2 separate regions of the Homo sapiens genome follow, and region 1 is linked to region 2. The links come from fine-mapping of genetic effects on gene expression. Tissue or cell type: whole blood. Region 2 holds a variant in brackets; the other region holds the start of a gene. All regions are shown on one strand. Distances are from middle to middle.

The links. PIP is the estimated chance that this variant, and not a neighbour inherited with it, causes the effect.
Region 1: PIP4P2 starts here. The variant in region 2 is fine-mapped to the expression of PIP4P2 in whole blood (INTERVAL, PIP 0.98).

The regions. Positions count from the first base shown.
Region 1 is chr8:91,036,499-91,044,587 of GRCh38, reverse strand. PIP4P2 (phosphatidylinositol-4,5-bisphosphate 4-phosphatase 2) reads left to right here and starts at 3,729. Exons shown (of 7, transcript NM_018710.3): 1 at 3,729-3,944. The coding sequence starts at 3,839. RefSeq lists a silencer at 3,508-3,707.
Region 2 is chr8:91,346,709-91,354,819 of GRCh38, reverse strand. It overlaps SLC26A7 (solute carrier family 26 member 7), which reads right to left. Exons shown (of 19, transcript NM_052832.4): 10 at 2,933-3,010; 11 at 1,824-1,919. Among named protein-coding and RNA genes, the nearest start is that of SLC26A7, 100 kb to the right of the region's middle. The variant CTACT/T (reference allele first, on the strand shown) is at 4,882.

The DNA of each region.
Region 1 (8,089 bases), 310 kb after region 2:
AACTAGACTTTGGGGTGTTGGGAGTGGATAAGTGTAGTTTGCCTGTGAGGGGGATGTGAACCACAGTGACCAGTGGGCAGACTATGGTAGACTGTTATATAATAGCATCCAGTGGATCATGCCTTGTTGTGTTCCACACCCCTTTGCATTGTGACATTGCTACTCTTCACTTGAAGTGATGGAATCTGTTCCTCCACCAGCCTTGTGACTTCCTTTGATCATGACGAGGCCTCTAGGTGCTTGTTTTTTTCCAAGCAGGAGGCAGGCTGAGAAAGCCATTGATGGTGGGAGAATGTGATAAGAAGCGATGTTTGAGAACCAGAGCCTAGATCTTAGGGATCCCTTACCTTCCACCATCATCCTCTTAGAATAGTGTTCTGAGAATACGAGGTATATGAGGAAGTCTGGAATAAAGACTACATGAAGAGAATTGCCCAGTGAGCCCAAATTTCCCAGCTGAGCCTAGCCCCCAGCAAACCTGCCAGCTGAATGCTGCTGCCTGAATGTTCAGGCAAGTCTGACAGAATGGCCACCCAGTCAACTACAGAATCATAGAAAATAACAACTCATGTTGTTTTAAGCCACTGAGTATTGGTATGGTTTGTTAGCAGTAGATCGCTGAAACAACAGCTTAAGTACATTAGATCTCACATATTATCTGTTTATAGAGTATTTTTATTCCAATAGACACATTAGCTCATCTCATGAATAGAGATGGCAAAGTATCATAATCATAATCATAAAAATACCTTGGATTGATGAGTATTATTTAACAACTATTGAGAAACCATAAACCATAGTATGATCTTTAACCTAGAATGAAGTAGTACTCATCTCATAAAAGCCTTTTGCTTTTTGTGGAAGTTGAGATTGCTGCAAATATAATCTCAGTATATCTACTACCTTTTGTAGTGTAAGAAGAGTAACTGTCATGAGCCTCAAATGAGTTCTGCAGTAGAGAAACCATATAATGAAGTAAAGAAAAAAACAAACAACAACAAAAAAAAAACCTTTATACTGATCACTACATGGGCAAAAAAGAAGACAGTTGTAGAGGTATGATGGAATAAAAAAATTGATCAGTCAGATGGCAAAACTGTCATCTTCATCAAAATGCCAAGAAATGTTCTTAATCTTTTTGTGCCAAACATTTTGTTTTAGTAAGATTCTGGGACTGTGTATATTTGTTCATTCACTCAATTGTTTATTTGACAAATATCGAGTGTTTACTAATGTGCCAAGCATTGTGCTAGATACTGGAGATCTAGTTATAAATAAGATAGATAGGTTTCTGACCTCAGAAATTTGGTTGGGGCTGGAGTTGTCACAATGGAGTGTGACAGGTAACACGACAGAATACTATAGTAGTAAGATTTTGTTGATTTTTCTCATAATTTTCTTTAACTCAATAGTCTCCAGGCTGCAGTTATAAAAACACTGCTGTTCATTTTTGTAAATTACAGGCACTTTTGCAGGAAGTGCTACATCTTGATTCTGTACTTTCCAGGTTCCTGGAGACCTAGAAATGCCCTTATATCATATAGGGATCCTTATATTGTATTGTATCCTGATGCTACTGATCCACAAAAGATGCTGCGTGAGTGCAAACATCATTATTTGATTTCCCCTTAGGATTTCCAGCTGATGCCTAAGTGGATTTTTCTGGAAGAAAGAATGTATCTTTAGAAAGCAGAGTGAGGATCCTTCCTAATGTAATTTGAAACATAGTTTCGTATGTCTAACTTCTGCTTTGCCTCATGCTCACTGAAATCTACAGCTAGCCTCATTTTCCACTTGTTTTTGACTCTCTCAGGCATCTTGAGGATTGAGATCATGTCGTAGTTATCTTTTAGACTTAGTAAATGAGTAATAAATGTTTCTTTTGAGTGACTCAAAAATTATTGCAGAAAAATTATCATCCTAGATCATTACTATTTTTCTATTGCATTTTTATTTAGACATGTTCAAAACTTTATTTATTTTTTTTTTTTTGAGACGGAGTTTCACTCTTGTTGCCCAGGCTGGAGTGCAACGGCACGATCTCAGCTCACCTCTACCTCTGCCTCCCGGATTCAAGTGATTCTCCTGCCTCGGCCTCCCGAGTAGCTGGGATTACAGGCATGCGCCAGCACGCCTCGCTAATTTTGTATTTTTAGTAGAGATGGGGTTTCTCCATGTTGGTTAGGCTGATCTCGAACTCCTGACCTCAGGTGATCTGCCTGCCTTGGACTCCCAAAGTGCTGGGATTACAGGCGTGAGCCACCACGCCTGGCCTCAAAACTTTAATTTGTTTTCATATTCATGTAAACTACTTTTGGATAATATGACAAACCACCAAATAAAAAAGAAAAGAAAAACATATAAAACATGGCAAGAACTGTGTTTTTAAAGAAAAAAGTTATTCAGTGATTCTTGTCAAAGCATGGTAAGGAAGACTGTATTTAGGGCTATAGTGATAGGTATAGGGACCATGGCAGCAGGGTCTTGCCATGTTGAAGAAGAGATTAGGCTCAATTCTGAATGCAGCATGGACAAGTGGGAATTTATAGCCTAGGAGCATGCAGGACAGGGGCAGTAGATGGAAAATTACCAAGGAAATATCAGGGATAAGGGGGATTCTGACTAAACCAAGCAAACGGGATTCTTGCTGAAGACAGAACAGGAGTTCAGGCCTCACATGGGGGATGCTGGAGGATGAGGAACCTGATCAAATATCAATATTGAGAATGGGGCTTCTTGCTAAATTAAGTTAGTAGGGTTCTTTGCTAAAACTGGATTTTATAAGGAAGTGCAGATGGGCCCAGCATAAGATTCAGAAACCTTACTTGTTTGACCAAGCAAAGAATCTTTGTCAGTGCTTAGGGTTTTTTGTGTTTTAACTCTGTTTTACAAGTAAACGATTATTTTAAAACTTTTGTCTCAAGAAACTTGTTTTTCGTTGTTTGACGTTATTCATAAACCTACTTACTGTATATGTGTCAGGGACAATAGGCTACAAAACCAAAACTAAGATGACAACCTATTTTGTAAAATGAAACTTGTAAAAGGCAACACACTGCATAGTTCCAAAAAGGTACTGTTACCAGAGTTCCAAACCGGTCAGGCCAACATTCCTGTTGTTAAAAAAAATCAATCAGGAAAAGTAGGGAATGCTGACACTTCCGCAAAGATCTACTTTCTCTTAGATAACAGATGTTGAAAACTGATTTCCCACAAAAAAACCCTAGAGGAATTGATAACCCCAGGAAGATGTTTTCTTTATATAACTGCTGCAAAGTTTGACAGCAAAGAGTCAGTCCCTCCTCCTCCTTAGGGGAGATAAACTTGATAATCTGCTTTTGCTCCAGTTTTCTTGTAATCAAGTCACAGGCCTTTCCTCTTCGCTAGCCCCTTTCAGGCTGCTTTTTATCCGTCTTTCCTAGAGCAAAGGACTTGTCCCCCTCCATCCCATTTACTCTCGACCCCCTTTCAGTTACTTGGCATCTTCTTTTCCTCGCGTTTCCCAGTTGGTCCTAATTTGTTCCCCTTTTCTCTGGCTGGCTGGGCTCCCGCTCCTCCACTGCTGCTCCTCCCACTCTGCGGGTTCTTTCTTTCTCCCTCCCCTCCCCTCCCCCAGCCATGCCTCCCAGCGCGCTTCCCTTCCCCCGCCTCCTGGTCCTGCACCCTCCCCTCCCCTCCCCCCGCTTCCTGCCTTGTGACACATCCCGGGCCCTCCCGGAGGCGGCAGCAGCAGCAGCTGCAGCGGCAGCAGCGGCAGCAGAGGCAGCAGCAGTAGCCACCACTCCGCCGAGGCCGCAACCCCGGCTCGGCCTCCCCAGGCCCCGCCGCTGCCGCAGTCATGGCTGCTGATGGGGTGGACGAACGCTCGCCTCTGCTGTCAGCATCCCACTCCGGAAATGTCACTCCCACCGCCCCACCGTACTTGCAAGAAAGCAGCCCCAGAGGTAAGGCCAGCGTAGATCCCTCTACTTTGCAAGGAAGTAGATTTGCAAGGAAACGCCCAGAAGGATAAAGACCTGGGAGCTCTAGCTTGGAGGTGGAGGTGAGCCTCTCGCTTGGGCTGAGGAAGGATGCTGACTGTGCCTTCCCAGGCAAGCCCGCCTGCCTGATAGCTTCTCCGCAGGGTTTTTCTGGTGGTGGTGGTGATGGTGGTGGTGGTGGTGGTGGTGATGGTGGTGGTGGTGGTGGTGGTGATGGTGTGTGTGTGTATTTCACCACTTCTTACCCAGGGCTACAGTATGTGACATGAATTTCCCAAGCTCTGCTTAGCTGTTTTCAGAACAGCCCCTAAGCGCAGCTAGGAGGTGGTGCAAATCTTTCACAATCATTCACAAATCTTTTTCCGTTGCTGAGAAACCAGGAGTATTGCTCACCTTGGCATCTGTCCTTGAAAGGGCTTTAGCTTGAACAATATGCTTCTGCTACCATTCACCCAACAGTGCTCTGTTCACTCAGTGAATTGCCATATCCAAAATGAATACAGTTAATCAATATTCCTAATATGTCTGAAATTCCTGCCCCTCCTTTTTACTCCTACTTTCAAGGAGTATGTGTTAGATTTAATTGTGAATGAGAAGGAAGGACCTTACTTCTCATAGAAGGGAAGATGGGATATTTTTAACACATATCTGGGTGAGATTGAAATTAACTTGTAAAAAGTAACCCAAATTAATAATACATATATTTCTATTTTTTTCTCAAGAAGAATAAAAAAAGATTAAATGCAATGGGATCTGGAGAAATATGGAATCTATTTACCATACTATTCGATTTATTTAAAAATCGATCGTTGTTCTAAGCCTTTTAGTTGATTACTATAGTAAATAAATAAGGTGGAGTCAGGCGTTACAAGAAAATGGAAGGCAAGACTTAAAAAAACCCACTTAGGTTAGTGAAAAGATTGGTCAAAATGGCACTTGCAAATGTTCCTTAAGTGCATCTCTCTCTTTTTTTGGCTAAATATGAGCAAAGTTTAAAAACCCAAGGAAGCAAAAGTTAATGATTTTGAAAATATAAGTAGGTAATGTTTCTTGTAATACAAGTTTTTAAGTTCAAGTCTGGAATTAGAGCTGATGTAGAGCAGGTTGAACTTGCTTAGTATTTAAAATTTCTATTTAACATTTTGTAACTTCAAAATAAACTATCTAGATCTTAATCCATACTTAACAAGAAGAAAAACAAAGGAAAAAGATGCTTAGCTGTAAATAATTCAGTGTGAGCCATGGCTTGAGAAATAAGGCACAGAGAGAGACTTGCCCACAGAAAACCTACAGGTCATTTTTGTTGGTCAGCATTAAACTTGTATCAGAGGACACCAGGCAAGAGAATTTCCTCTAATGGGCCAATTTGATATGAATATTTTACTGTTATCTAAATCGTATTATGTAGAATAGACTTAAACACTCACTAATGAATGTTTCAACTTCATCAAGTCAGCCTTTTATGGCAAAATGTTTGGCGGTTTATTAGGAGACAAAGTTTCAATTTAAGTATTTGTCCTATAACCTATTTTCATGCCCTCAACTAGTGGATAAGTTATTTTTTAAAAATGGCTACACTCAGGGATCAGCTTATAGACATCTTTATTATTTTCCATATATTTGTTTAACCTAATAAGATTCCTCAAACTACACAAGTATAAGTTCCAGTTCAGCCACTGAGAAAAAGTAGTGTCATTGTAGAAAACTTTTAACAACCAGAGAAATTCAATGACTTAGCAAAAAGCTGCTTCTGCCTTATGGTAGAATACATTTTTTCTTAATTGGTGAATGAGACAGGTTAGATGATTAGAGAAACTCTTAATTTCATATGACATAACACCTACTAAGGAAGAAGCATAAATGAGAGGTAAAAGCATTTTATTTGCATTTTGACAGAATATTTTTCTTCATAAGTAACAAACATTGTAATAAATATTATGAGTAATACACAAGATCTGGAAGACCACCACTATTCATTCATTTATTAATTTATTGGGAAGCACAATGTGCCATACACTGCTCTAGGGGAACAAGAGTGATCAATCCCATACCCTCATGAAGACTATATTGTATTAGGGAGAAAGAATAAATAAATACATGGCTGAATTATTTCAGATTGTAAAAAAAATTCTATCACTAGATCAGATGTTTTTGGTAGTTGAAAACCGTTAGGGTTGACAGTTGGAATTCAATCAGAAACAGAATGCACTTTCTGATAATGAATTTTAGTTAATGATCCCATTTACAATTATTCAGACTTTTATTTTTTTAAAAAAAGAAGTTAAAAGCTATAACTAGTGAATATTTTCTCCAATCTGACCCCTTTCTCTTTCTTTTACCTTCTAAAGTACAGGAATGTTAGTTCCCACCTCCAAGATGAAATAGTCCATTTCAGGTTGAAAGTCGGTGGAGTGTTTATTTCTAGACAGATTATTAATAATGTAGCAGGGAGCAGTTAGTATTGTGTGTTTGGTTTTAGCACAAGAAAAATCATGTGTGGTCTGTGTAACAATCCATGTTGGTTTCTAAGTGGAGCATGTCTAGTGTTCTCTACTGTCAGTATTGGATTCATGCATAGGAAATTGCTTCTCTCCTGCTTGCAGTGCTTCGTTTAATATACTTGCCAGTTTTTGTTTAGGTATAGAAATTAAAATTAAAGAGAGTTTTAGGCTCATCTGAAAGGAGATTGGAAGAAATACCACAAAATTTACACAGTTTTGATGTATTAATTGATTCCTTTATACATCTGCTAATTTTGTAGTTAGGATATAACAAAAGAATATGACCTTTGAATTTATAAGATTTTTTCTGTGAAAATTGTTTATATCTGGGGTTGTCTCATTATGTATTCAATATGGAAATGGGATTATATACTTCACTATAATTCATAAAGGGAAAATAATAATTTGTTATACAGAGGCAGACAGTTTGATTTACTTAGTTTATTATTCAGCAAATAAATATTTGAGTACCAGCCAAATCTGTGGTAGGAGAAGAAAAATAGTCATGGCTCCTCTTCCAGTGTAGTGGGGGTATTGAGAAATAAATTATGTAATCACACAAACAGATGCAAAATGCAATGGTGATGAAGACAGTGCTGGAAATATATGCAATACCTTGAGAGTATAAATTAAGATTTAATTTTGTTGAGGGAGTCGGGGAAGGCTTTCTTGATGCTTGAATGAGATCTGAAAGTTGAGCAAGAGTTAACTTGGCAAAAGGTGGACTGGAAGACCATTATAGGCAAAGAAAGCAGTATTGGCAAAGTGATCAGCAGGGTGGAGTATGACAAATACAAGGAACTTAAGGAAGGCCAACGTGGCTAAAATGGAAACAGCAGTAGGAAATGCACTGCAAAATGGGACTGGAGAGATAGGTATGGTGGATATTCTCCGAAGACTCTCTTTCCCCTTCAAAGAACTATGTCTTCTGATATTCAGTTTCCTCCCCTTGAATCTGGGCTGATGCCATGACTTGATTTTGACCTCTAGAATAAGGTAGAAAATATGCTGAATGACTTTGGAGGGTAGGTCAGAAGAGGTTTTACAGCTTTTATCTTGGTCTTTTGTAAAGTACACTCTGGGGAAAGTAACTTGTCATGTAAGAAGTGGAACACTCTGAGACTGCCATGCTTTATGGAACCTGAAACTAGCCTGGTAGAGAGAAAGATGCCTGACCAGCCCTCAGACATGTGAAGGGAGATGCCATCTTGGATGCCAAGCTCAATTGAGCCTTCACATGACTCCAGCCTTAGCCAAATTCTTACTACAACCACATGTGGCCAACTTGTTCTGCAGCAACAGATGACCAGAATAATGAATATGAATCAGCCCATCCAGGATATTGTTGGTCATGTTAAGGAATATTGCCATAAGCAAAGGGATGACTGGATTAAATCTTTATTATTAGTTTTTAAACCACTCTATAGATTAGAGAATGAATTAGAGGATTGGCTAGAGTAGACAAGAATAGATGACTTCCTTGATTATTGTAATAATTCGGGCAATTTAACTGAACTATTTCAGTAGCTTGGACTCAGGTGGTGGTAGAGATGGAGAGATGAAGGATGATGTTAAGGAGGTGGATTGAACAGGGCTTGATGATGGATT
Region 2 (8,111 bases):
GATGCTCCTAAATAGAAACTCAGAAGTCATTCCAACTGATCCACATTATATAATGAACTGGTGGTGAGGACTAACAAATACAATATCTTTAATATTTTTCATCTGATTCTTTCTTGTACTTCATGGTCTCAGCCTTGGTCTAGGTCTTCCTCATTTATATGCCTGAAGGGCTAAAGCAGTGCTCCAGTTCCTGTATACTTCACCAGTTTGATCCATCTTCCTCAAACTACTCAAGTGACCTTTCTAATACATACATTTTATTCTTATTTCACCTTTCAGTGATGTTTCACTGCCTTCATAATGAAATCAAGTCATCTTTGTAAAACTTGAGTTGCCTTGCCCAATCCAACCCATTCTTAACTTTTCCACATCATCTGTCACTACTCCCATCCTCACATTATATGTTCTACCCATGCCAAATACCTTGATTTTTTCAGAGACAGACATGTTCACACTCATCTCTGTATCTTTGCATATGAGATTCTCTTTGTTTCTTCTCCAGGTAATGCAATTCTTCAATTCTCAACTTCCTAATAGAAATCTTACTTGACATCTTCTCTACCCTTTCCAATATGGTAACATGCTGCCTCCTATATGATCAATGAGTTCCTTAGAAATAACTTAACCATAGGGTTATCAAGTAGCTTGTTGAGTAAGTTTGCATCTTCTCATTTCTTTGTTTTCATGAGCCACCTAACATGTATCACCTTTAAAAGGTCATGGTTAATTTTGGCCTTTTGTTCTGCCTACAAAATACTGTTCCTTCAAGTCTCAGTTCATATTTCAGCTCTTCTGTGAGAGTCTTTCATGTTAATCAGTCCAAATTAAATGCTTCTGCCTCTATTTTCCCCAAAACTAAGCTCTTACTTTTCCTTCCAGGTCATGTTGTATCCTGTCTTGCATGATAATTTAGTGTTTCTATGTCCACTGCCTCCACAAATAACTGTCTAGAGAGACTGGATAGTTCTTTTTTCATCTGCACATTCCTCATGGTGCCCAGCATTATACTTTGGTGGGAGCTCAGTAATATTGAGCCCCAGGAGGAATATTACAAAAGTAGGCACCAGCATAAATAATATCCCAAAACCTCTCAGAGAAAATGATCTGAAGAAGAGAAAATATGTATTTCATATTAATAATTATATTCCAATATGGTGACTGTCATAATAGAGCTAAACAGAGGGTACTCATGAAGTACTTCTCCCATATTGGAGAGGGAGAGAATTCTGGATTGCTCTTGCATAGATAGGTTTCTCTAGAATCAGTGTGCTATTTATGTTCGTAGAAATCACACTTTATCATGGTTCAATATATTTTAATCTGTTTCAAGCATGGTCCTCTTAATGTAACCCATTTAAAAGGCAATTCATGAGACCTTTTGTATTTAGAATGACAGTGGTCACCATTAAGAGGTTCACCCTATATGCGCGCAGCGTGCATTCTTAGTGATTCATGATAGTTTTTCATAAAGGTTATAAATTGCCATATTTCTATTAGTGTCTATTTCCCTGGTAAGTCTTACTTCCAAAATTAATTCATATTGTAAATTGGGCATCCCAAATCCACTGAAATTATTAGCATTTCTTTAAAAGTTCTCAAACTATACATTCATCAAAATTTGACCAAACTCTTATTTCTGTTTCATATGAAGACAATTTATATTTTAATGCTTTTATTAAGATTTTGGAAAAAAAATGGTAGTTTGTAAAGTGTACAAGTCTCAAATGACAATATCTATTTTCTGCAAATAAAAGTATTAGTGCATATTTGGTAACATAAGCTTAAGCTAAAAAGGGATTGTTTTAGGTCAAATTTCTACTTACCCAATCGATTTTATCCACATTCCAATATTTTTTTAAATCTCGGAACTGTATTAGCATTCCCTTCAGTCCCACAACAATAATGCTTGCAAGGACACACTAGAAATAAAACGTAAGTTGAAGAAGAAGCAACATAAAAATTTTAACTTAAATTTAAAAGGGCTAAGGTATTTTTATTTTTTTGTTTTTAAAGTACTTAATAGAGAAAAGCAATCACCGATTAGAAGACAAAAGCAATATTTATTTTGTTTAAAACTAACCTATTATTGCACTTTAGGAATATAATATATATTCTAGAATTCATAAGGTAATATTTGTACAATTCTAAACAACAAGAGCAAAAAGAAAATAAGTAAATGGTAAGGGTGAACATCATGAAGCTAAATGCCCTCTTAACTAAACGTATTCACGGTCATTTGTTTGAAAAGTATTTGTTGCATGAAATTAAATATGTATATCATATATTTTCTTATAATTGCCTTAAATGTCAATTATCTGATTTCACCTGAAGATATTTATAACTCTCTTGAAAAGCGAACTTGATTATTGGAAGATCCTACCATGGAAATGGTTTATTCTCACTACACACATGAAAAATTAGAATAACAAAGGATGGAGACTGGCTCTCATAAGCCCAGTGTTTTGCATTCCTTTAGTGCCTCAGGCTTATGAAGAAGAAGGTGAAGCACTGGCACTAATGTTCTGAATCACTTTGTGTAACAGATATATCAACAGCAGGAAGCTGTATTTTGTTTCCTATTTCCTTGCCCCAGCACATATGTTTTTCTAACAGTCAAAGTTTTAGTAAAATTTATACTTCTTATAACAGAATATGCCTAGTTCCACTCTCCAGATGAGCACAGAATGAATCTAGTTCCACAATACCATTCTTATGTGAGAGCCAAAAACGTAAAAAAAAACAGCCACGGTACCCCCTCCCACGCCTGCCTCAAATGTGGTAGCTTTCCACACCTCCCCCATTCAAACTTTACTTCTGTAACATGGTTTCTACATTTAGGATTGTTGAGGTTATACTTCCAAGAAATTTTATATGCAATGATTCTCATGAAAAGTTAAATTAAAAAGTAGATAGTGAAAAAGCACTACCGTACCATGGGCAGCCAGTAAAGCAAAGGTCCTATTGCATAGATGACTATAAGGACGAAAATGCAAGATATTAGACAAGCCACCTGTAAAATACAAGACAGACAAAAAGGAAAAAGAAAGCCTTGAACTTTTTTATTATGTCAAAGTTATGGGGTGGGGGGGATAATTCTTAGTTTATCTTGATTAGAAGAAGTAAAATGTTGACACATAACTGTTAAATTGCTTAGACTGTCATTATCTATATTTTGCAACTGAGGGAAGCCAAATGTGACAGCTGACAAACTGGTGCAATCAAATTAAGTCAGTGATGAGAGAAAAGCAATTTCACACAAAGAAACAGGACACCATCAACTTTTATCACAATCACAGTGATGGCTTTTTTGTTTAATAGTGAAAGTGACATTTCAATTAAAATTTCTTTAGCCTGTTGTTGTTTAGCCTGACTCCCCTCCTTATTTTGTAGGAGGTTGTTTGAGCAATAACTGAATATGTGGCTTAGGATTTTTCTGTGCTGATAATTTCCACTGAAGCATTTACCTTGTTCTTTGGATTTCTTTGTTAGTAAAGGCTCAAGTTGTGGAGTAGTTATATGGGATATGGGAGTGATCTCTGGCTGTGGAACAGACTTAATTTTACTAAACCTGAAAAGCCATTAGTATCATGTTCTAACCAACCAGCCTGCTGACAAAAGGCAGTTCAATTCACCTGACTCCTATAGTCATGTTCCACTTGATGGAGAACTTGATTTCACAGAAGCAAATGTTCAGGACCTAATAAAACATTTGGCCAAACTGCCTTCCTAACAAGAGAAAAGAAGGCTTTCACAGGCCATGGAGATGCCTAGAACATCATTATGGAGATATCAAAGGGAATTTGGACCTAGTAGAATGGCTTAAATTAAAAATAAATATATAAACAAACAATCAATATCAAAGGCTGGCAAAAACTCAGCACAACTGGAATTCTCAGGCATTGCTGGTGGGAATACAATATGGTACAGCTACTCTGAAACAGTTTGGCAGTGTCTTATAAAGTTACACATACACTTACCTTATGACTCAGGACTGGCTAAGAGAAATGAAACATATGTCCACGTGAAACCTAAATATATATTTGTAGAACCTTTATTCATAAATGCCAAAATCATAAATAACTAAAATATCAACTAATTGGTGAATAAAGTGTGGTACATCCATACATTAAAATACAACTCAGCAATTTAAAAAAATGGATGAAATTCAAAATCATTAAACTAATGAAAGAACCTAAACACAAAAGGCTACATACTATAAGATTTCATATATATGACTTTCTGAAAAAAAGATAAATTATAGGATGCTAGAGGCTGGAGGTGGAGGCAAAGAATTGACTACAAAAGAGTATGAGAAAACTTTTTAGGGTGATAGAAATATTCTATATCTTGATTTTACTTGTTATACAACAATTTTTTTTTCAAAAAAAGTGAACCGTATACCTTAAAAGAATAAATTTTACTATATCTAAATTATACCTCCATAAACCTTACTTTTAATTTAAAAAAAAAAAGAAACCTGGGAAGAGATCTCTAACAATTGCTTACATGCATATGTCCACACCCACAACACTTGTCCTAACCTGGTACTATTAAAAGGTGTGTGTATATGGGAAGAAGGAGAGTGGAGTGGCAGTAGCTATAATTATTCTGCTAAGCAAGCAGTCATTCAAGGCCTTTCCCTGTTGGCAGAGGCTGAGGGAGTCTGTTCTCCCTTCCATAGTTTGTGTAACTCATCACAAACACTCGTCAGCATACAAAGGGGAAAAACAATTCTTACTTGGGAATTAAATCAGTAGGGGAACTAATGATTGCCCATAAAAAAAGTTATAGTACACCAAATTGTCACTATCCTGATCATTTAGGAGCAATTGGTGATTTTACATAAGAATTTTTAAACAATAAAATATGATGCCTGACATT[CTACT/T]ATACTGCAACGAGGTAGGTGTCAGAGTGCAGCTCACAGGATCCAGTCAGAGAGCTCAGTCAGTGATTCAGTAATTCCATGTTTACATGAAAAGAAAAAAATACCAACAGCTAAGGTTTATTTTAAGACAAAAGACAATGGCATGTACCCTTTTTGTGGGACTCTTCACTCATATCTTTACAATGTACCTGAAACCAAAACCCTAAATCTTAGGAGCTGGAATGAACTTTGTACACATGCAGTTGCAATTACTTGGAAGGATCTGAGACACAGAGAGGCAAAGTGACTATGCCAAGGTCATAGAGCTAGGGAATTAGAAAGCACGAAGGTAATATAAAATATGTACTGAATTGGGATCCAAAAACGCCAAATATATTTTAAGGTTCCCAAATTTATTATAGTACACTAAAGCTGTTATAGAAATTACAACCTAACTAAATAATTCTATTTAAAAACAGTAAATCACAACTACATTTGGGCTTTTCTCTAAATAATATTTAATTTATCTTTTATTTACATGGTGCTTTGTATGTTCATTAACAACAATTGAATTACAATTTCAGTCTTGTAGTAAAAATAAGTCAAGAGTTAAATGGATCTTATTTGGTAAAGGGTGACAAACTGTGGGTGAAAAAGACTATTTGTTTACCTTAAATGGTAAGTCATGTAATGAAATAGACCATAAGCAAATGGGTTATGTTAGCTCCCTTGACGCACTTGCCTTATCATTGTTGATGCCCTTGGTCAAAAGATAAGTTCATCTAATCAGACAAGAAACTCTTAAGCTCTGTCCAGTGTATATACTCCCCAGTCATGGAAATTAATATTATAGTGTCTGCCCTCAAAGCTCTCAAAATACTGGTATTCATTCTCTTCATAAAGAAGAAGCCAGGACACTGAAATTTGGATTCGTAAAAAATCTTTGAGATTATGCAGTGAAAGCCATCATTCCCTAACTGGCCAACTCAGTAAATTCAAAAAGAGCTCAAATTAAGATCAAATATTTGCAGTGTATAAAATAGAATTCTCTAATTTCAGGATTCTATAATAACCCACTTAAGCTATATTTCAAATATCATCTACTTTCTTCGTATATTTTACTTTGCATATGAGGTAATATTTTCTTGCCTTTCTCTGACCTACCTTGAGAAAAATTTGAAAAACAAGTTAAAACCAGAACAAAAGAGATGAGCTTGTTCCTTTTTTAATCTCAGGAAAAAAAAAACAAAACTAGCTCCTTCTTAATAAGTTTCAGGTTGGCTTCTATTGCACTTATTAAAGTGTTCACACAATTACCCACTGGGCAAACACTGGCTAGGATTTTACTCTTTAACTCCTTCTTTCCACATCATACTAACTAAATGACCAAATATATTTTTGCTTCAAAATCATAACTACTGATATTTAAGAGTTAATTCTGCATAAAAGATAATGAAATAATCTATATTTTATTCTTGTTATGTTCTCAAACAATTATTTTATATGCTCTATGTTAGTTACAAAGATGACCATACATGCATTTTTATTATCCATACCTAGATATTTCGTTGGGAGTAGAGGGAGAAACCAGCCATTTACTTCCTAAGCAGTTGTCAAAGAAGGCATAAGTAGTTCTCGAACTCACTGCATGTGCAGTCTTGTGGAAAGTAGTGAAATGGCAAAAGAGATGGGAAAGGGCAGAAAGAAAAAAAGAGAGAGATGACATTAGATAACTAAAGCTAGATTAAGAAGGTTTTAAAGGAGATGAAAGCAATTAGCCAAATTTCAAAAGAATAAAGGAATACAGTTTGGCAAATTAGAATGCGGAGACAATCTCAGTGTTGCAGAAAAACATGCCAGCTGTTGTTTTCAGTTGTGGCTGAGCTGCCTGTGCAGCAGACACAGTCTCTCATCCCTCCTGGGTATACCTCCCGAGCTCCCTGCAGAGCACCAGCGGATCTCCTCTGTTGGAAGTGAAGAGAAGCATGCAAGGAAGAAAGCCAGGGGACACTGAGCTCCCTCCCATACTTACCGTTCTTTACAGGGAAGGAGAAAAGGAAGAAATGTAATTTTTTTGTGCTATTTGTCTAAGCTGTGCCACAAATTTCTTATTCCCCTAAAGACCTTTCTTAGATATGCATGCTTTGGGTGTCACATCTAAAGGGGGTCACTGTAAAAAGGGTTTCTTCATATGGAAGATAGAAATGAGTCTGATGACCATGGCACTTGGTGTTAAATGATCAGTAACTCTTGTTGTTCCAATCCAAACATTTGGTTTCATTTTCTAAAGCACTGAAAGTCTTTACCATCAACTCACTTCTATATAAAATTGTCCCAAATTCACTGTCAAAACAGCCTCATATGGCTCTTGAGGACTTGAAATTTGGCTAGTTCATATTAAGGTATGCTGAAATCTAAAATACCAGATTTTGAAGCCTTGTACCAAGAAGAAAATAATGTTAAAATATCATTAATAACTTTTAAATTATTAACTTTGAAATATTAACATTAAAATGATAATATTTTGACTCCATTAGGGAAATTAAAATATAAAATTAAAATTATCAATTTCTTCTACTTCTAAAAATGTGGCTACTGGAAAATTTAAATTATCTGTGTAGCTCATATTATGTTTCTGTTCAATAGTGCTTCTCTGAAGTGCATGATCCTAAGCCTGGTTTTAAATGGGATTTTCTGTAAATGTGCAACATTAAGCAGTAATTAAAAAGAACTGTCCAGCCTGACCAGTCTCTTCTAATGTCAGCAAAACTGGTAGTTTTCTTTTATAGTTATTGGAAGCTCTCATTTCTCATTCATTCTTTTCTGTAGTAGTTACCTAACACCTACCACATGCCAGGTCCTGGGCTAGCCACTGAGGATACACTGAACCAAACCAGACAAGGTTTTGTGTTCTCCAGTAGCTTTAAGTCAAGGATAGAAGGGTAACATCAATCATATAATCACAATAATGAACATTTAATGTCAAATAGCACTAAGGACGCTGACAAAGAGGAACATGACAGACCCAGAAGTGGCAGTGAGATACGAAGGATGGGAGGAATTCACATAGAGAGGAAGGGAAAGGCAGCCTCAAAGACAAAGGGAACAGACACTGGAACCCACAAGGGCTGGAGAAGGACTAGGTCTGAGAATGAGGTGGAGAACAGGCCAAGAGGAGGCTGTGCCAGGACGCACTCAGCGCCTGGTAGACAGCAGAAATGTCTGAATTCTAAGACCCACGCAAAGC